Linked DNA regions of Homo sapiens. The protein of the gene in region 4 interacts with the protein of the main gene of each other region in a biochemical or structural test. Each region holds a gene or a part of one and is shown on either strand. Other genes may lie near its edges. The genes, in order: NOTCH1, DTX2, GLI1 and RUNX3.

Region 1 (4,749 bases), on a different chromosome or scaffold from region 4:
GCGCAGGCCCTGAAGTCCCAGGTCCTCTCGGAACCTCCGTCTCTTTTACCATAAAGTGGGGAGAGTACTGCTTGCCATGGCGCCGGCCGTGAGGGGCAGGGAGGCCGTCGGGGAGGGCCCAGGAGAGTTGCGGGGATTGACCGTGGGCGCCGGGTCTCACTCACCCGCGGACGTCCATGGGGTCCAGCTCCCTCCGCCGCCGCCCACCCTCGCTGCCACCAGGGAGCAGCGAGGCCTTCACCTGGCCCAGCAGGGCGTCAGGTGCGGCCCAGCCCTCGGCGGCACGCTTGATGGGGTGCTTGCGCAGCTCCTCCTCGCGGCCGTAGTAGGGGAAGATCATCTGCTGGCCGTGTGCGTCACGCTTGAAGACCACGTTGGTGTGCAGCACGCGGCTGAGCTCCCGCAGGAAGTGGAAGGAGCTGTTGCGCAGCTGCTCCGGCGGCATCAGCACCACCACCACCAGCGTGCCGGCCGCCAGCCTCTCGGGTACATGCTCCGCACAGTCCAGCCCGTCCCACTCGCACTCCGCGCTGTTGCAGCCCTGGTCGCAGTGCCCGTCGCTGAAGTGGTCCTTGCAGTACTGGTCGTACAGGGGGCTGTGGGGGGCGGGACACGCTCAGGCCGCCTTCCTCGGGGGGCCTCGCACCCGCCGTCCGGTGCCTCCAGCCCACTGGCCAGCCGCGGGGGACGTCCCTGCACCCCCTGAGCAGAGCCTTAGAACTGCATGCTGGCCTCCGGGCCCAAGCCAGGCCACATCCAAGTTCAGGTCCTCCCTCAGCCCCATGAGCCCCGCAGCCTTACTTGCACTGGCCTTCCGCACGCTGGCAGTCAAAGCCGTCGAAGAGGCAGCCGGCTGAGTTGCACTGGCTGTCACAGTGGCCGTCACTGAAGTACTTCCAGCACTGCAGAGACTGCGTGCAGTTCTTCCAGGGGTCATTGAAGTTGAGGGAGCAGTCACCGCCGTCCCAGCCGCACGCGTGGTTGTTGCACTGCAGGCTGCAGACCTTGTTGCCCGCGTCCTCCTGGCACTCGGGCAGCTCGCACGCCTCCTCGATCAGCGGCGGGGGGATGTCGCGCCCGGCCCCACCCCCGAAGCTGTAGTCCAGGATGTGGCACAAGAGCCCGTTGAATTTGGCGGGGCACAGGCAACGGTAGAAGGGGCTCTCGGATGTGGGCTCACAGGTCCCCTGGTTGTAGCAGGGGTTGCCGCCCAGGCAGGGGCTGCTGGCCGGGAACTGGCATTCGGGGCCCGTGAAGGGGCCCAGGCACAGGCAGGTGGGGCTGCGCGGGCCGGAGATGCATGTGCCGCCGTTGAGGCAGCGCAGGCTGCCGCAGGTACGAGCGTCATTCTCACACGTGGCGCCCTCGAAGCCCTGCCCGAGAGGGAAGACAGGACGGTGTCGGGGTGGGCCACCCCCCGCCCCCCCGCCACCTCACACCCAGCCCTCGGCCAGCAGTGCCACCGCTCTCCTCTAACCTGGGAGGCGGCCTGCAACCTTGCCCCCAGCAGCAAAACCCTTTACACACATTCTACCAACAGAGAAAGATCGGGGGTGCCAGGGGGTCGGGAGATGGAGGAAGGGGTAAACTGGTGGAGTGCTGAGGACTTTAGGGCAGGGACTCTCTGCCGTGATCCTGCGAGGGTGGGCAGGCATGTCATACCTCAGCCCAAACCCACAACCACAAAGCCAAGGGCAAGCCCCAGGTACAGGAAGGGCTGCTGTTGGTAACAATGTATCACTGAAATCCAGAGTGAAATTGATGCAAGCTGCTAACCAGGGGAACTGCGTGCAGGGGACAGCCACCCCAGGGAGTCTACTTCCTGCTCCATTTTTCTATAAATCTAAAATGTCTCTAAAATCATTTATTGAAACTAAAAAAAAAAAAAAGACATCAGGGTGAGGAGGAGGATGAAGGCCGGGAGGATCACTGCCCGGTCTGCGCCCCGAGGCCCCCACGTGGACCTCTCCAGGTGTCTCCCCTGGCGGGCCCCTGCCTCCCTGCACCCCTGCACCTACCGCAGGGCACTTGCAGATGAACCCGCGGGCGGTGTTGGAGGCCACGGCGCAGGTGCCCCCATTCTTGCAGGGCTTGCCTTTGCAGCCATTGATGACGGACTCGCAGCGGCGCCCTAGGGGTAAGAGCAGGGCAGTGAGAGGCTCACCCTGCTGCCCCACACGCCCCACCCGCCTGGGCGCGGCACCCACCGGTGTGACCAGCACGGCACTCGCAGTGGAAGTCATTGACGCGCTGCACGCAGTTCTGGGTGCCACGGGCGTCGCAGGGATTGGACAGGCACTCGTTGACATCCCCCTCACAGCGCTCACCCACGAAGCCCGGCGGGCAGGTGCAGCTGTAGCCGCCCACCTGGTCCACGCAGGTGCCGTTGTTAAAGCACTTGGGGCTCCGGGACACGGGGTCAACGGGGGGATTGCAGTCGTCCACGTTGATCTCACAGTGCACACCTGCGGGGCCAGGTTTCGTCAGTGGCCCAAGCCCGCCACACCCCGGCCCTGCCGTGCCGCGTGTCCGTCCCGGAAGACGAGCGCTCAGGTCTGGGGCTGCACGGACACTCGGGAGAGGCAGGTGTCAAGGGTGCCGTGGAGACGCCCTTCCCACTGGGACCCCCGCTCTGGGCCCTTTCCCTGGGCAGCTGTGAGTCGGCCTTGGCCTCACACAGGAAAATGGGAGTTTCTGGCTGGTTCCTGGATGCCTCTGGCCGGTCCCGGGGTGCCTGCCCTGCCCCTGCCCTGGCCATGGATGGCCAACACCAGCCCTCCGTGCAGCGGCCCTTACCCTGAGTGCCCCGTGGGCAGGAGCACTTGTAGGTGTTGGGGAGGTCGAGGCAGGTGCCCCCGTTCTGGCAGGGGTGGGAGAGGCACTCGTCGATCTCCTCAGAGCAGTTCACCCCGTGGTAGCCGGCCACGCACTGTGCAGGCGACAGAACGAGGGGCCCTTCGGCTCAGCCGGCGCCAGGATGCAGTGCTCCCACACCCCACTGTGAGGGCTGACAGGGCCACATGAGCTGCCCTCAGGTCCAGCGAAGCCACGGGCCCCTCGCTCCTGTCAGACCTGGAGAGAGACCCAGCCCAACAGACCCTGGCGGGGCCTCGGTGACCGGAGTCACTGCCTGTTGGGGGTGGGTGGACCCCGTCCCATAGGATAGAGGTGAGGGCCTCAGGGTAGGTGTTGGCCAAGCCCAGACACAATCTAGGGGAAGGGAAAACCCCATCCCACTTCTCAGTATAGGTACCCTCCTTCAGGCTTTCCACAGGCCACCTCTTCCAGGCAGTCTACCCTGATTACCCCAGCCCTCCCCTAATGAGACTGAACAGTGCATGGGCCTATCAGGTTCAGTTTTCTCCACTGGGCCAGCTCCCAGCCAGGGCCTGGTGTGTGGCAACACTCGTGCCGGCCACAACCCTTACCCTAGGAGGGACCCCCACCTTGCAGGAGTAGCCGCCCAGGTAGTCCGTGCAGGTGGCCCCGTTCTGGCAGGGGCTGGGTGAGCACTCGTCCACCAGGTCCTCACAGTAGCTGCCTGTGTAGCCCGCCTGGCAGCGGCAGTGGTGCGTGTTGCCCGCGTCCACACAGAGCCCTCCATGCTGGCACAGGCGGGCAACGTCAACACCTGCGGGGGATGGGGTGGTAGACAGGTGAGGCCCAGGCCCACAGAGGACCTTGATGGGCTGGGACCCGAGCTGGGTGGGCACAGCAGGTTACCTTGTCGCTGCGCAGCCACCTCACAGGACACGCTGGGCACGTCGCAGTAAAGGCCGGTCCAGCCGCTGGGGCACTCGCAGCGGTACTGGGTGTGGGTCTGCCAGCATTTGCCGCCGTTCTTGCAGGGCGAGGAGTCACACCAGTGCACAAGGTTCTGGGGACAGATTGGGGTCAGCTGGGTGCCCGCGCCCCGGCCATTTCCCCGGTAGCTCAGAACGCACATCTGCCAAGGGGCCTACTCCAACCCAGGCTGCAACCCATTCTACAGAAGTGGAAACTGCCGCCCCTGGACTCCCCACCACCCCCACACCAGGAACAGCCTGGGCTGGGTCTCCCTCAGGGCCCTCAGCAGGTCCAGACCACCCTCGGCCTTTGCTAGAAGGAACACTTTTCCTCAATTCCCCAATTCCTGAGCTCCTGCCCCGGCTCCAGAAACCTGGGATTGAAACGAAGGTGCCTGCTGCTTCCGCATCAGGTTCCTTCACCGGCTGCTCAGATCCCCAGAAACCCTCTGCCCGGGGGTGTGGGGGTGACCCCGAGCCGACACAGTGGGACCTGGGGTGACCGTTCCCACCTCCCGCAGGTAGGCACCCACCCAGGGCCCCTCCTTCGGGCACCTCTGTGGCCGGCGCACTCACCTGGCAGTTGGGGCCAGTGTAGCCCTGGGGGCAGGTGCACCTGTAGGAGCCGCAGCCGTCCTGACAGGTGCCGCCATGCAGGCAGGGCTGTGAGTCGCACTCATTGACATCGTGCTGGCAGTAGCTGCCCGTGAAGCCGGGTGGACACAGGCAGGTGAACGAGTTGATGCCGTCCACGCAGGTGCCACCGTTGAAGCAGGAGCTGCAAGGGGGTGGGCAGGCGGGGGCTGAGTGGAGGGCATTGGTGGGTCCCCGCTCCAGCAGATTCTGCCTCGCCAGCACCTCCCCTTCTGCTCAACCCTAGGGGCCTGATGGCCAGGACAGGCCCAGGGCAGCCTGGCTGACCCAGGGAGGCCAGTGGGAACCCGGGGCCCGGCTCTCACACCAC
Region 2 (4,749 bases), on a different chromosome or scaffold from region 4:
TAATAGGGGCAGCAGTGGATGTGTAATGGTAACAGTAATAGCAGGCCTGGTGCAGTGGCTCACACCTTGTGATCCCAGCACTTTGACTGGCTGAGGCAGAAGGACTGCTTTGAGCCCAGGGGTTCAAAGTTGCAGTGAGCTATGATCGTGCCACTACACTCCAACCTGGGCAACAGAGCGAGACCCTGTCTCTTTAAAAAAAAATAAATAACAGCCAAGCAGGAACCCGCATCCAGGAACACAGCCCTTTGCTCCTCCCTCAGAATGAATGGAAACCAGGCTGGGCGCGGTGGCTCACACCTGTAATCCCAGCACTTTGGGAGGCCAAGGCGGGCGGATCACGAGGTCAGGAGATCGAGACCATCGTGGCTAACATGGTGAAACCCTGTCTCTACTAAAAATACAAAAAATTAGCCGGGCGCGGTGGCGGGTGCCTGTAGTCCCGGCTACTAGGGAGGCTGAGGCAGGAGAATGGCGTGAACCCAGGAAGTGGAGTTTGCAGTGAGCCAAGATCGCGCCACTGCACTCCAGCCTGGGCGACAGAGCAAGACTCCGTCTCAAAAAAAAAAAAAAAAAAAAAAAGAACGAATGGAAACCAGAAATCAGATATTTATGCCCAAGCAAAGCAGGATTTCGTTCAGCACTACTCCCAGATCGTTAGGGTGCTGACTGAGGATGAGATGGGGCACCCAGAGACAGGAGATGCTACTGCCCGGCTCAAGGAGGTCCTGGAGTACAATGCCATTGGAGGCAAGTATCACCGAGGTTTGATGGTGCTAGTAGCGTTCCGGGAGCTGGTGGAGCCGAGGAAACTGGATGCTGATAGTCTCCAGTGGGCACCGACTGTGGGCTGGTATGCGCAACTGCTGCAAGCTTTCTTCCTGGTGGCAGATGACATTATGGATTCATCCCTTACCTGCCAGGGACAGATCTCCTGGTATCAGAAGCTGGGCATGGGTTTGGATGCCATCAATGATGCTATCCTTCTGGAAGCATGTATCTACTGCCTGCTGAAGCTGTATTGCCGGGAGCAGCCCTATTACCTGAACCTGATGGAGCTCTTCCAGCAGAATTCTTATCAGACTGAGATTGGGCAGACCCTCGACCTCATCACAACCCCCCAGGGCAATGTGGATCTTCGCAGATGCACCGAAAAAAGGCACAAATCTGTTGTCAAGTACAAGACAGCTTTCTACTCCTTCTACCTTCCTGTAGCTGCAGCCATGTACATGTCAAGAATGGATGACAAGAAGGAGCACACCAGTGCCAAGAAGATCCTGCTGGAGATTCAAGAGTTCTTTCAGATTCAGGATGATTACCTTGACTTCTCTGGGGACCCCAGTGTGACTGGCAGAGTTGGCAATGACTTCCAGGACAACAAATGCAGCTGGCTGGTGGTTCAGTGTCTGCTACAGGCCACTCCAGAACAGTACCAGATCCTGAAGGAAAATTACAGGCAGAAGGAGGCCGAGAAGGTGGCCCGGGTGAAGGCACTATACGAGGAGCTGGATCTGCCAGCCGTGTTCTTGCAGTATGAGAAAGACAGTTACAGCCACGTTATGGGTCTCATCGAATAGTACGCAGAGCCCCTGCCCCCAGCCATCTTTCTGGGGCTTGTGCACAAAATCTACAAGTGGAAAAAGTGACCTAGAGACTGCAAGGGCGGGGAGAGAAGGCTCTCAATAAGTAAATTATTGTGTAAAATAAATAAATAAATGAATAACAGCAATGGCTACCAGGTAAAGGTTTACCAGGCACCAGGCACCGTGCTAAGCCCCTCCACCTGACTAGTAATTCTCGTTGGTCCTCACAACTGGGGAAGCGGGATATTTCCATACCACAACTGAGAAAAGTGAGTCACCAGAAGACATGCAGCTTGCCCAAGGATATCCAGGGACTGAGAAAACCCAAATCTGTTTCCAGAGTTCCTGTCTTTCCCACCAAGACAGACTGACGACGGACAAACTGGCCTGTAGATGTGTTTTGCTTGGGTTACTAAGGTTTGGCTTTTAAAAACTGAGCTGATGTTTAAAAATTGGAATATTTGGCCGGGCTCAGTGGCTCACACCTGTAATCCCAGCACTTTGGGAGGCCGAGGCAGGCAGATCATGAGGTCAGGAGAGCGAGACCATCCTGGCTAATGCAGTGAAACCCTGTCTCTACTAAAAAATACAAAAAATTAGCCAAGTGTGGTGGCGAGCGCCTGTAGTCCCAGTTACTCGGGAGGCTGAGGCAGGAGAATTGCTTGAACCTAAGAAGTGGAGGTTGCAGTGAGCCAAGATTATGCCACTGCACTCCAGCTTGGGCGACAGAATGAGAATCCGTCTCAAAAAAAAAAAAAAAAGGAATATTCACAGTAAAAAAAAAAAAAAAAAAAATCTAGATTTCAAGCTTCCCTTGAAAATCAGGAAAGATGGCAATATTTGCAGGCTGGACCTAGATCCATGATCTACCTAGCAACACCAGCTAAACTGCAATGGTGGCTGGAACGTCCTCTCTGGGTGGCCACAGCTACCATGACTCCCTATGGCTAGGGCCAGCATGCTTTTCCTGTAAAGGACAGAAAAAGTCTTTGCAGTGACTCTGCCACTAGACCACAAGAACAACCATAAACAATGTGTAAACAGGAGGGGTTGCATACCAATATAACTTTATGAACAAAATCAGGCAGTGGGGCTGAATGCGGTAGCTCACGCCTGTAATCCCAGCACTTCGGGAGGCTGAGGTGGGTGGATCATTTGAGGCCAGGAGTTTGAGACCAGCCTGGCCAATACAGTGAAACCCCGTATCTACCAAAAAAATACAAAGATGAGCCAGGCGTAGTGGCGTGCACCTGTAGTCCCAGCTACTTGGGAGGCTGGGGCAGGAGAATCACTTGAACCCAGGAGGCGGAGGCTGCAGTGAGCCGAGACTGTGCCACTGTACTCCAGCCTGGGCAACAGAGTTAGACCCTGCCTCAAAAAAAAAAAAAAAAAAAAAATGCTGGGCGTGGTGGCTCACGCCTATAATCCCAGCACTTTGGGAGGCCAAGCGGGGGTGGATCACCTGAGGTCAGGAGTTCGAGACCAGCCTGGCCAACATGGTGAAACCTTGTCTCTACTAAAAATACAAAAATTAGCCAGGCATGGTGGCTGGTGCCTGTAATCCCAGCTACTCAGGAGGCTGAGGCAGGAGAATTTCTTGAACCTGGGAGGCGGAGGCTGCAGTGAGCTGAGATCGTGCCATTGCACTCCAGCCTGGCAACAGAGTGAGACTCCATCTCAAAAAAAAAAAAAAAAAAAAAAAAAAAATGGCAGTGGGCCAGATTTGGCTGAGGGTCCATCGTTTGCAGACCTCTGCCCTGTGGCCTCCCTCACATCTATTACTGTACTTTCACACTCCTACAGTTGAGCAATACTTCTCTGAACTCATGTCTCTATCAAAAAGTGAGAGAGTGCTCTGCCTCTGGCTAGCTTTGCCAACAACACGCCCTGCCCTCTGCAGACATGTCAGCCTTTGCCCAACACCTAAGGGTGAAATACAGCATCCAACAGCACAGCAGGCAGCATGCCAACAGCACCCGCCCCTGGGAAGCCCCAGGTGCTCCCCAGAGCCACACCGGGCGTTGATAACATTCTCTGCATCCGGGAATCAGGCCCTGGCCTCCCTCTCCCCTCCTCCCCTCCTCTCTCCATTCCCCCCGGATCCTCAGGATCTGTTCCCATGGCTTCAATATTCCCTTGCATACAGATCACCCAAAGCTGTCCTCGGGATGCCCTGCCCGAGCCCCTCAAACCGTCAGCTCCTGCCATCTGGACCTCCTGGCAGTGCCCAGGGCAGGTCAGGATGTTTCATGCCCTTCGTCCCCCACTGAGAATGCCCATCGCACTTGTCCACTTACTCATCTCTTAATTCCTAGCTCAAGACTCTGCCCTGTGAGATCTTTCCTAAGTTCGCTCCCGCTCCACAGGCAGAAGTGGCCACTTCTAACAATCAATGCCCACATGACGTCTCAGTGCCATTATCTGTCTCCTCCACTGGAGAATGCATACGCTCCTTAAAGGCAAGGGTTATGTTCAGGAAAAGACTTCAAACCAGACCCAGAAAACTGAGTACTAGGGAAAAAATACATTTCGCTATGTTAAAATGAAGAATGGCTGATCAACAGAAGACACCTTAAAGAAAGAGGAATAATAGGTTAAAAGCTGGGAGAAGATATTTGCAATAGACACGAAGGATTAAAATCAGCAATATATAAAGAGCCCTATAGATCAACAAAAAATAAAGCACCAAGAACCCTAATGAAAAACTGGCAAAAGACATGAATATTTCACAGGAAACACATATGCCAATAAACATAAGAGGAGATATTCAGCAGCAGGGCTCAGGGACCTAGAAACCAAGTTCCCAAAGATTCCATTTTCTACCCATTCACTTGGCCAACAGCAAATGTTGGTAAGACTGTGGAGCTGCAAGACACAGGACACTGCTGGTAAAGTGGATACTGGTATAAGCACTACATTCAGGAAATGGTCTAGCAATAGCTACGAAAGATGAACACTGCCGAGCATGGTGGCTCATGTCTATCATCCCAGCACTTTGGGAGGCCAAGGCGGGTGAATTGCTTGAGCCCAGGAGTTCAAGACCAGCCTGGGCAACACAGTGAAGCTGCCTCTGCACAAACTTTAAAAATTAGCTAAGCATGGTAGCCTGTGCCTGTAGTCCCAGCTATTCAGGAGGCTGAAGGGGATGGATCCATTGAACCCAGGA
Region 3 (4,749 bases), on a different chromosome or scaffold from region 4:
ACCCCCTCTGGCTGAAGCATATCTTGCCCGAAGCAGGTAGTGCTGGGCAGGCATAAGGCCAGGCAGGGAGGATGCTCCATTCTCTGGTGGGGAGCCAGGGGGGAAAGGAGAGGCCAGGGAGGAGCGGCGGCTGACAGTATAGGCAGAGCTGATGCTGCTGGAGCTGCTGCTGCGGCGTTCAAGAGAGACTGGGGGGCCCACGCGGCGGGACACAGTGGTACCTGCAAGTGATGGGGAGAAAAGGTAGGATGGTCAAGGAGCTTCCTAAATTTCACCCTGCCTCCTCCATGCAACAGCCTTGCCCTGGATTCTCAGGGGTAAGCTCGTTATCCCTAACCAGTCTGTTCTGTCTCCTACTTCTCCCATGCCTATTCTGTTTCTGGGTTACCAAGGATTCAGGGTTGCTATGAACAGTTGTGCAGGTTGTGTGCTGCACAATCCTAGGGAACAGCATTCGCATCATAGCCTTTGCATACTTGTTTGTTTGTTTGTTTTGTTTTGTTTTGTTTGAAACAGAGTTTCGCTCTTGTTGCTCAAGTTGGAGTGCAATGGCGCAATCTCAGCTCACTGCAACCTCTGCCTCCCAGGTTCAAGCAATTCTCCTGCTTCAGCTTCCTGAGTAGCTGGGATTACAGGTGCCCACCACCATGCCTGGCTAGCCTTTGCATGTTTGTACATCACAACTATTTTCTGATAAATGGAAAGTGTCTTGAGGAAGGACACCATTTTCTAATTATACAAAAGTGCTGTGTGACAGCCCTCAAGGGTGACTTCCTCCTCTCAACCTCAGGGCAGGTCCAGATCTCACCCCAGCCACACCTCCCACACCCAGGTCTCACCGGTGTGGGACAAGCTGGGCAGTTTGAGACCCCGGGTCCCTATTGGCCGGAGTTGATGTAGCTGGTCCAGCCTGAGGTTCTCAAGGCGGCGAAGAGTGGACAGACCAGTGCCAGCAATGCAAGGTCCCTCGTCCAAGCTGGAGAGGTCTTCAGTGCTGCCCCCTGCATTGCCAGTCATTTCCACACCACTGTCTGTATTGGCTGCACTCCCTGCCGGGGAGTGGTCACTGCTGCAGGATGACTGGGCCCCAGGGCTTGGCTGTGGCTTCTGTGGAGAAGATGAGGTCTGAGGGCAACACCCTTCCCCACAGCTCCTTCAACTTGATGAGTGGCTGAAGCCTGTGTCCCAGTGACTGCTGGGGTTCCAAGGAAGCTTGTAAGTGTAGAAAGGGCTAAGCAGGTAAGAGATGGGGGAGCAAACTGAATGTGAGACGTTTGATGAGAAGAACCTAGGCTGGAGCACGGACTGGCTGGACTCAAATTCTTGCTCTTAGTTCTATGACCTTGGGCTATTTCTCTATGCCTGAGTTTCTTCAACTGAAAATGGGAACAGTGAGTCCCTTTATCATGAAGTTGCTGTGAGGAGTACATGAAATTATACATGTAAAAGGCTTGGAACATATACTAAGTGCTATTTAAGAAAGAGTTGCCGGGTGCAGTGGCTCACGCCTGTAATCCCAGCACTTTGGGAGGCCGAGGTGGGCAGATCACGAGGTCAGGAGATCAAGACCACCCTGGTTAACACAGTGAAACCCCATGTCTACTAAAAATACAAAAAAATTAGCCCGGCGTGGTGGCAGGCGCCTGTAGTCCCAGCTACTCAGGAGGCTGAGGCAGAATGGCGTGAACCTGGGAGGCGGAGGTTGCAGTGAGCCGAGATCATGCCACTGCACTCCAGCCTGGGCAACAGAGCGAGACTCCGTCTGAAAAAAAAAGAAAGAGTTTGGGTTGGATGCATTGGCTCATCCCAGCACTGTGGGAAGCTGAGGTGGGAGGATCGCTCAAGGCCAGGAGTTTGAGACCAGCCTGGTCAACATAGCAAGACTCGATCTCTAAAAAGAAGAAAAATTAGCCAGGCATGATGGGGTGTGCCTGTAGTGATCACTTGAGCCCAGAAGTTTGAGGCTGCAGTGAGCTATGATTATGCCACTACACTCCAGCCTGGGCGACAGAGCAAGACTCTGTCAGAAAGAAAGAGAGAAAGAGAGAGAGAGAGAAAGAAAGAAAGGAAGAAAGGAAAGAAGGAAAGAAGGAAGGAAGGAGAGAGAGAAAGAGAGTGAGAGAGTGAGACAGAAAGATTCTAAAACCTCTAGATTTGGGGAAGCCCAAAGAGCAACACTAAGACAAGAGACAGGCAGACTGGTCACAGAAGAGTGACTTCTATAGGAGGGAATGGATGGGTTGGGAAGTAACTAGAAAGATGTCCACAGGGTGGGCTGGGGTATGGAGGTGAGGGTTGCCTGGGCTCTCTCACCATGGCACCCTCTGGCACAGTCAGTCTGCTTTCCTCCCTGATGGGACCTCCTTCCCGCTCCCTCTTGGGCTCCACTGTAGAAATGGATGGTGCCCGAGGCAGGGGGCCATCCCCACGGTGCCGTTTGGTCACATGGGCGTCAGGACCATGCACTGTCTTGACATGTTTTCGCAGCGAGCTAGGATCTGTATAGCGTTTGGTGCAGCCAGGGAGCTTACATACATACGGCTTCTGTTGAGTGGAGAGTGGAGACAGAAGGCAAACGGATCAAAGCGGAAGAATGCAGAAGAAATGGGAAAAAGTGGTGACAACACAGGGGGCAGGGGAGGAGCACACAGCACCAAAGGAAGTAAGGAGGATGGAGGCCTCCGGTGGGAGTCAAAGATGCAGAGATTAAGTGGAGGGTTAGGAAAACTGACAGCCTGGGAAAGATGAGGGGGTGAACCCAGGGCTGTGAGGTCCCATAAATCCAGGGGTTGGAGGGATCAGGGGTCTCCTCTAGATGGAATCTTTTAGGTTAGCCTTTTGGCTGGTTAGAGGTTAGAGGTAGGAGGAGGAGTGGTTAAGTGGAAATTCTGGGTTTCAGAAAAGCCTTTTCTGGGCGAATTATGTGGGGAGGGGGACTCACCTCTGTGGAGTGGGTGCTGGGCTAAGGGATTTCTTATGGGGGAATCTCCCTGGTAGGTGGCTTCTCAAGAGGGGAGGGTCGCTTAGTTAGGGCATTCACCTCATTGGAATGGGTCCGATTCTGGTGCTTGGCTCGGTCACTGGCATTGCTGAAGGCTTTACTGCAGCCCTCGTGCTCACACATGTATGGCTTCTCACCCGTGTGTGACCGCAGGTGCGTCTTCAGGTTTTCGAGGCGTGAGTATGACTTCCGGCACCCTTCAAACTGGGGGACATGCAGGGGTCAAAGGATAGTTCTCAGACAGAGGACATGGAGATGGAAGGAACCCTCAATCTCCAACAGGACACACATCAGAGAATATAACTCAAGATGAAAGGCACTGGGGCTTCGAGAGAATTCCCAAAACTAGGGGACAAGGGCAGGCAAGAACTTGGAGAAGGGAAGCAGTTGGAGGCACTCTCCCTTTGGGAATATAAAGATGCTAGAGCATCTTCTGACCAAGCCAGGGCAGATTTCTCTGCATGGGGATCTTAGGCTGTCCCAAGATGGGGTCATCTTGGGGGAACGGGCTGTTGTCCTTGATGCAGGGTTTATCCATTAGGCAGAGTAGTAGGCACAGTACTGAAGGCCAACAATACTTTAAGAGGCCCACGAACATGTTTTAATGTCTTTTTTAAAAAAAATTTTTTTTTTGAGGCGGAGTTTTGCTCTGTCGCCCAGGCTGGAGTGCAGTGGCGCCATCTCAGCTCACTGCAACCTCCACCTCCTTGGTTCAAGTGATTCTTCTGCCTCATCCTCCCAAGTAGCAGGGACTACAGGCGCCCATCACCACGCCCAGCTAATTTTTATATTTTTTAGTAGAGACAGGGTTTCACCAATATTGGCCAAGCTGGTCTCGAACTCCTGACCTTGTGATCTGCCTGGCTCAGCCTCCCAAAGTGCTGGGATTACAGGTGTGAGCCACCGTGCCTGGCCTGTTTTAATGTCTTTTAAAATCAAGGGGAAAAAAATGAGCTTTTAGGTCCAAGAGTGTTTTAATATATATCATCATATTCATCTTTATGCCAACACAGTCACACAAACATTATTTTTAATATTTGTTTATGGAAGAAAGGACTTATAAAAGCAAAAGTCTGCCTTGGGCCCTACCTTGAAGGAGAGCCCTGATTTAGGAAGAGACCCTGGACTTGGGACACTGGTGCCTCACCGTGCACTTGTGTGGCTTCTCGCCAGTGTGTCTGCGCATGTGAACCACCAGCATGTACTGGGCTTTGAAGGGCCTCAGCTCCCTGGAGCAGCCCCCCCAGTGGCACACGAACTCCTTCCGCTCCCCGTGGATGTGCTCGCTGTTGATGTGCTGAGGGAGAAGATACAAAGGCTCTCCAAGGCTCTCCCATGACCCTGAGGTCCAGAACAGACCTTCCCTCCACCCCCTGTTCCTCTTCCACGACTCCACCTCAAGGAGGAAGAGGCAGGAGCAATATCATATCTCACATCTCAGGTCTTCCAGCTCCCTAAGGCAAAGCTACAACTTCTGAGCTTCTGCCTACCCAACTGAGCATTCAACCTCAGTCTCCTCTGACCTCCTGCCCTCAGCCGGATTCCACCATGTCCCACTCAGAATCTCCTAAAGGTTCTGGCTAGCCATTCCTGTTACCCCCTGGGGCTCACGTGCACCAGCTGCTCTTGGGAGTCAAATTCCTGGCTGCAGCCATCCCAACGGCAGTCAGTTTCATACACAGATTCAGGCTCACGCTTCTCCTCTCTCTCGAGGTCCTCCCGCCCATCCAGCATCCCCAACAGGGGAT
Region 4 (4,749 bases):
TAGGATTTTGGTGTGGAAGCTCGAGATTCCATCTTCTTGTTTTCGTGATATTTGGGGGAAGGTCTTTATTGTTTTTAAGCCTCTTCTCCACCCTGCATTGGAGAAATACTCAGTGTGCCTGGGACCTGGGGGAGCTGCCCAGCCCAGCCCCTCCCCTCCTTTCCCTGGTCACCCTCTTCCTTTCTAAGCTGTCCCCCTGCATCCCCCCGCCCCGTGTCTTCAGGTGGTGGCATTGGGGGACGTGCCGGATGGTACGGTGGTGACTGTGATGGCAGGCAATGACGAGAACTACTCCGCTGAGCTGCGCAATGCCTCGGCCGTCATGAAGAACCAGGTGGCCAGGTTCAACGACCTTCGCTTCGTGGGCCGCAGTGGGCGAGGTAAGTGGAAGGGAGGCCTCGCCATTTCAGCATTGGCAATGGCAGGGGCAGCAGGGAAGGAGGTTGAAAGAGGGGCCTTAGAATCCCGAAAAACAGGTCTCCAGATGCAGCTCTGTCTAAAAACAGCAATTTGTAATCCTGTAGGATATTACAGATCGCTTTGAGGAGGTGAGGAAAGTTATGGTCTCTTGCCAGAAAAAGACAATTTTCTCCCAGTTTCTAGGGTTTACCAACTCCTGAAACCGTTCATGCCACCCCCTCTTTCCCGGTTAAGCACACCTGGTCTCACAAAAAATGCTGGCAGGAGATGGTGGATTAACAAGCTCAAAAAGGGAGCTTATAGGTCTTTCAGCAAGGCGGTTGCAGGACAAGTCCCTGATCTGTGGGGCCCAAGCACCCCAGCCACTCTCTCCATAGGGGGCAGAATATCCCCCACACTCTGAGGCTGTCTCTCCAGCTGTGGTCTCCCAGACCCAGTTTCCCAGCGCCTTTGAGCCCTAGGTGGTCTAGAACGGAAGCTAACGCAGCTGAATGTTGGAAAGCACAGCTCGAAGGCTGCCATCTCCTGCCCCAGAGTCAAGGCGGGTGTGCCACCCTGCCTGTCTGACCGACCTTGAGCAGCAGAAGGAAGGCGGGACGGGGGTGGGGGGCTGTTGAATGGGAGGCTTCTGGGACCTGAAACCCATCATCACTTAACTCCTGGATGGGAAAGTCCTGGAAACCCTGCCCCTGTGGAACGGAGGCCTGAGGGTCCACTGGCCCTTTAAGACCAGCCTGCCTACGAGAAGTGGCTGAAGTGGGAGTCGCCCTTCCCAAGCACCAGGCCCGCCTCTAGCTTTGTTAAGAAGTAAGCTGGGTTCCCTCTGCTCCCCAACTCCACAGCAGGCTGAAGTGGCTGAAGCAGAACCGTGCTTTTCATCACCAATAAACAGGACCTTCTCAAGGTTCTAGTTCCCTCTGAGCTGCCAGCCCCGCTCTGAAACAGGCATCTGGGCACCATTTTTTCCTTTCCAGCCGTTCGATGTATACATACAAATGTCAGCCATATTTTGACTTTTCAGCATTAATTAAAACCAGGACATTATTTGCATGTAATAACTGTTTACTTGTTACTTTTTATGAAACTGAAATAGTTTACATTCTTTCAAACATTTCCTGTTCCTGTTGGCTCCCTTCCCCACACACAGATTTCTTTCAAACGGTGCCCTTAACTGGTTGCAGGTTGATGGATGGAAAATGTTTGCTTTTATGAATTAAGCTTTCATTGCTGCTCCTAATTAGTCTCCAAGTCCCTTTTGTCATCCCCAATCTCTCAAACCCTTTGCGACTTAATCCCAACCCTGAGAGGACAGTCACTGGTCCTTGGTCGGTGGCAGACAAGGCTGATGAGCTCTGCTGACTGCGGGGCAGTGGCCAGGTCTGCTAGCCCAGGTATGTGTCAGGAGCACTATAGCTGCTGCCTGTTGCGAGGCGGGCAGAAGGTGCTGTCGATCTGGGAGCCCAGCAAGGCATCAGGAACTTGATTCTCCCTTCCCACTCTCTCTCCTGGGAAGCGAGAGAAAGAGAAGAGACGACGATTTTCTGAGTTACCGAGACCTTGTCTGGCCATTCTGCACACTGAGAATGATTTTTTTAGGGGTTTTCATGCCCACAGACCTTGAGCCCCCCTCCCCAGGCCTGCAGGGAGGGAAATGGGTTTCCAAGGCGTTGGTTGGGAGCTTGTCCTTGTAGCAGGAATGGCCGAGGCTGGGACTGTGGCTCTGGGAGATGCAAGAGGCTGAGTTTATAAACCATTCTCTCATCCATCTCCTCTCAGAGGTCCATAACCAGTCTCAGTGGTCCTGGGAGGCAGGAAGTGATCTGAGGAGGAGTTCCGATGTCTGAGGAACTGTGGCTAAGGCGTTCAGCCTTCAGAGGCTCGAGGTCTTTGAGAGCCTGCATTCTAGTATCAGCCACCCTGCGTTTGAGTCCCAGCTCTGCTAATGACTTGCTGGATGACATTGGGCAAATGACTTAACCACTCTGTGCCTCAGTTTCCTCATCTGTGAGATGGGGATGATAATGGTACCTACCTCATGAGATTTTGGGAAGGTTAGGGAAATTGACACAAGTGTATCAGCTGGCGCATATTGAGAGCTGGATACATGTTAGAGATTTTGTTACTTCAAATGCCTGGGACTGGAGGAGGACTTTGAGGTCCCTTTGAGCGGTGACAGCCACTGATTCTCTGATTACTGTGTGGTTTGGGCGGGGGTGGGGGAAACCCAGAAGGTGTGAACTGCTGAGTGGGAGAGGTGGAGGCGGTTGGCAGGGAGGAAGGAGGGTGCCGGGTCCGCTGGCATGCAGACACACATCTGCAGTGCCCATCCTGCTGACTGGGAAATTCCCACCTGAGAGAACAGTCAGTGGTTGACAGTGACAATCTGGGCCACTTTAGGAGATGGGACACTTTGGGAGTTAAGACTGGGGGTTGGGACCCAGAACCCTTGCCTGGGTCTCTTGACTTCTGCCAGAACTAAGAAGTCTGATGGAAACCTCTGCTTGTTGCCTCAATTTTTAGTTCTACATTCTGTCTGAATTCCAGGAAGATGGCTTTCCATGAAAGACACGCACCCAGTAACACCACAGAGCTCTTAACAACAGGGCTGAAGGTGTGAACCAAGAAAAGGAAGGGAGGAAAACCAGGTCATTGCTGTCTCCTGCAGTGATTAGGGCTGAGGTCCCTGCCCTGCCAGACACGAGGAGCCTTTCTTACAATACATATTTTATATCAAGCCTTACTATTCTACGTTGAAATGTATAAATAATGAAACCTACCTATTTACATGCAGTTGCAAACTATGTTATTCCATAGCTATGATGGAGAAAAAAAGGGAAAGTAATTTATAATAAAACACTGATTTGAATATGTAAACGTTGGGGCCACAGGACTCCATGAGGTGGACGAATGCCCTCCATGCAGAAGCCCACAGCAGAGGGAACAGGCAGGGTGGCAGGGCTCAATCTGAACCTGGCCTTGCTGCCAATACCATGACTTTCTGAAGTTGTCAACACCTGTTGGCAAAGCGCTGAACAAAATTAAAAAAAAAAAAAGAACTGTCTTTCCTTCTGGAAAATTCAGTAGATATTAAAAGTACAAAAAAAACCCTTGTTTTATGTAAAACTGAGTTAGGTTCATGACTCAGATAATTTTTTTTTCTTTTACTTTTTTTTGGGACAAGGTCTCGCTCTGTCGCCCAGGCCAGGGTGCAGTGGTGCGATCACTGCAGTCTCAACCTCCTGGTCTCAAGCAGTCCTCCCACCTCAATAGCTGGGACTATAGGCATGCGCCACCATGCTCAGCTGATTTTTTAAAATTATTTGTTGTAGAGATGGGGGTGTTGTTCACTGTGTTGCTCAGGCTGGTCTTGAACTCCTGGACTCAAGCGATCCTCCTGCCTCAGCCTCTCAAAGTGTTGGGATTACAGGCATGAGCCACTGCGACCAGCCAGAGAACTTTTATAAGCAAGTTTTTCCCTCCCAGGAAGAATTGAATCTTCACCACCCTGGGCAGCGTTGGGTGCTGGCATCCCCCACCACATACACGCACCCCACCCCTAACGCTGGCAGTGCCACCCCAACACTATGTTGACCACACGCCACCACAAATCCCAAAAATGCCCCTCTAGCAGGCGGCCACTGGCCTAAGTGAAAATGAAAAGCACATGAGCTCTCGAGCTGTGATCAACTGGTTAAAAAGCAACTGTGTGTCGACAGAGATTCGGGGTGCAGTGTGCCGGTGCAGGCTGAGGGGAACCGCTGGTTGGGGGAGAGATGAATGGCTTCTTGGCTGAAGCTGAGAAAACCCCGAGGTCCCCTGAGACTGAGACACGTCCCCTCCCCCCACCCATGCAGCTCCTGTGGGTGGGGCGGGGACCTTATACACATAGGAACCCAGGCAGAGAATGCTCAAGGACTTGCCTGAGGCCCTGCTGCCACCCCGGCTGGTTGATGATGGGTCCTGGAGGAGTTTCTGGAGCCCTAAAGGAAACCCATTTCCCAGACCAAGACTTCTCCCCTGCAACCAGGGCCAGCCCTCAGAGAGCCTGGGTTTACACTTCCTGGGCTCCTGATGGATTGCAGGTTTGCCTGGGACTCCTGCACAGAGTTATATCTAGAGGCTGAGAGAGAGGGATGGATGGGTTTGCCACTGCCAGGCAGAGAGAGAGCTGGGCAGGGCCGGGGTAGCTGAGGGGCACTCAGGGAGACAGCTTTCTCCCACCCCTGCTCCCCAGGCTCCCTGTCTCCCGAGGTCCAGGACTCCTGCCCCTCCCTCTCACTCCTCCTCTTAGGCCCCACACTCCTCTCCTTTGTACCTGGGAGGGGTGGT

Evidence for each region.
Region 1: the proteins of RUNX3 (region 4) and NOTCH1 form a complex in vitro, tested with the Homo sapiens proteins (one study listed by BioGRID).
Region 2: the proteins of RUNX3 (region 4) and DTX2 form a complex in vitro, tested with the Homo sapiens proteins (one study listed by BioGRID).
Region 3: the proteins of RUNX3 (region 4) and GLI1 form a complex in vitro, tested with the Homo sapiens proteins (one study listed by BioGRID).

The regions. Positions count from the first base shown.
Region 1 is NC_000009.12:136,504,509-136,509,257, forward strand, and holds part of NOTCH1 (neurogenic locus notch homolog protein 1 preproprotein), read right to left. Parts: intron 4,564-4,749; coding exon 4,362-4,563; intron 3,878-4,361; coding exon 3,724-3,877; intron 3,632-3,723; coding exon 3,447-3,631; intron 2,930-3,446; coding exon 2,797-2,929; intron 2,466-2,796; coding exon 2,208-2,465; intron 2,132-2,207; coding exon 2,019-2,131; intron 1,374-2,018; coding exon 802-1,373; intron 597-801; coding exon 165-596; intron 1-164. UniProt on the Homo sapiens protein: Functions as a receptor for membrane-bound ligands Jagged-1 (JAG1), Jagged-2 (JAG2) and Delta-1 (DLL1) to regulate cell-fate determination.
Region 2 is NC_000007.14:76,466,990-76,471,738, reverse strand, and holds part of DTX2 (probable E3 ubiquitin-protein ligase DTX2), read right to left. Parts: intron 1,720-4,749; exon of another isoform or gene 1-1,719. UniProt on the Homo sapiens protein: Regulator of Notch signaling, a signaling pathway involved in cell-cell communications that regulates a broad spectrum of cell-fate determinations.
Region 3 is NC_000012.12:57,465,789-57,470,537, reverse strand, and holds part of GLI1 (zinc finger protein GLI1), read right to left. Parts: coding exon 4,613-4,749; intron 4,299-4,612; coding exon 4,149-4,298; intron 3,206-4,148; coding exon 3,041-3,205; intron 2,545-3,040; coding exon 2,314-2,544; intron 1,108-2,313; coding exon 840-1,107; intron 222-839; coding exon 1-221. UniProt on the Homo sapiens protein: Acts as a transcriptional activator. Binds to the DNA consensus sequence 5'-GACCACCCA-3'. Regulates the transcription of specific genes during normal development.
Region 4 is NC_000001.11:24,923,205-24,927,953, reverse strand, and holds part of RUNX3 (runt-related transcription factor 3), read left to right. Parts: intron 1-223; coding exon 224-380; intron 381-4,749. UniProt on the Homo sapiens protein: Forms the heterodimeric complex core-binding factor (CBF) with CBFB.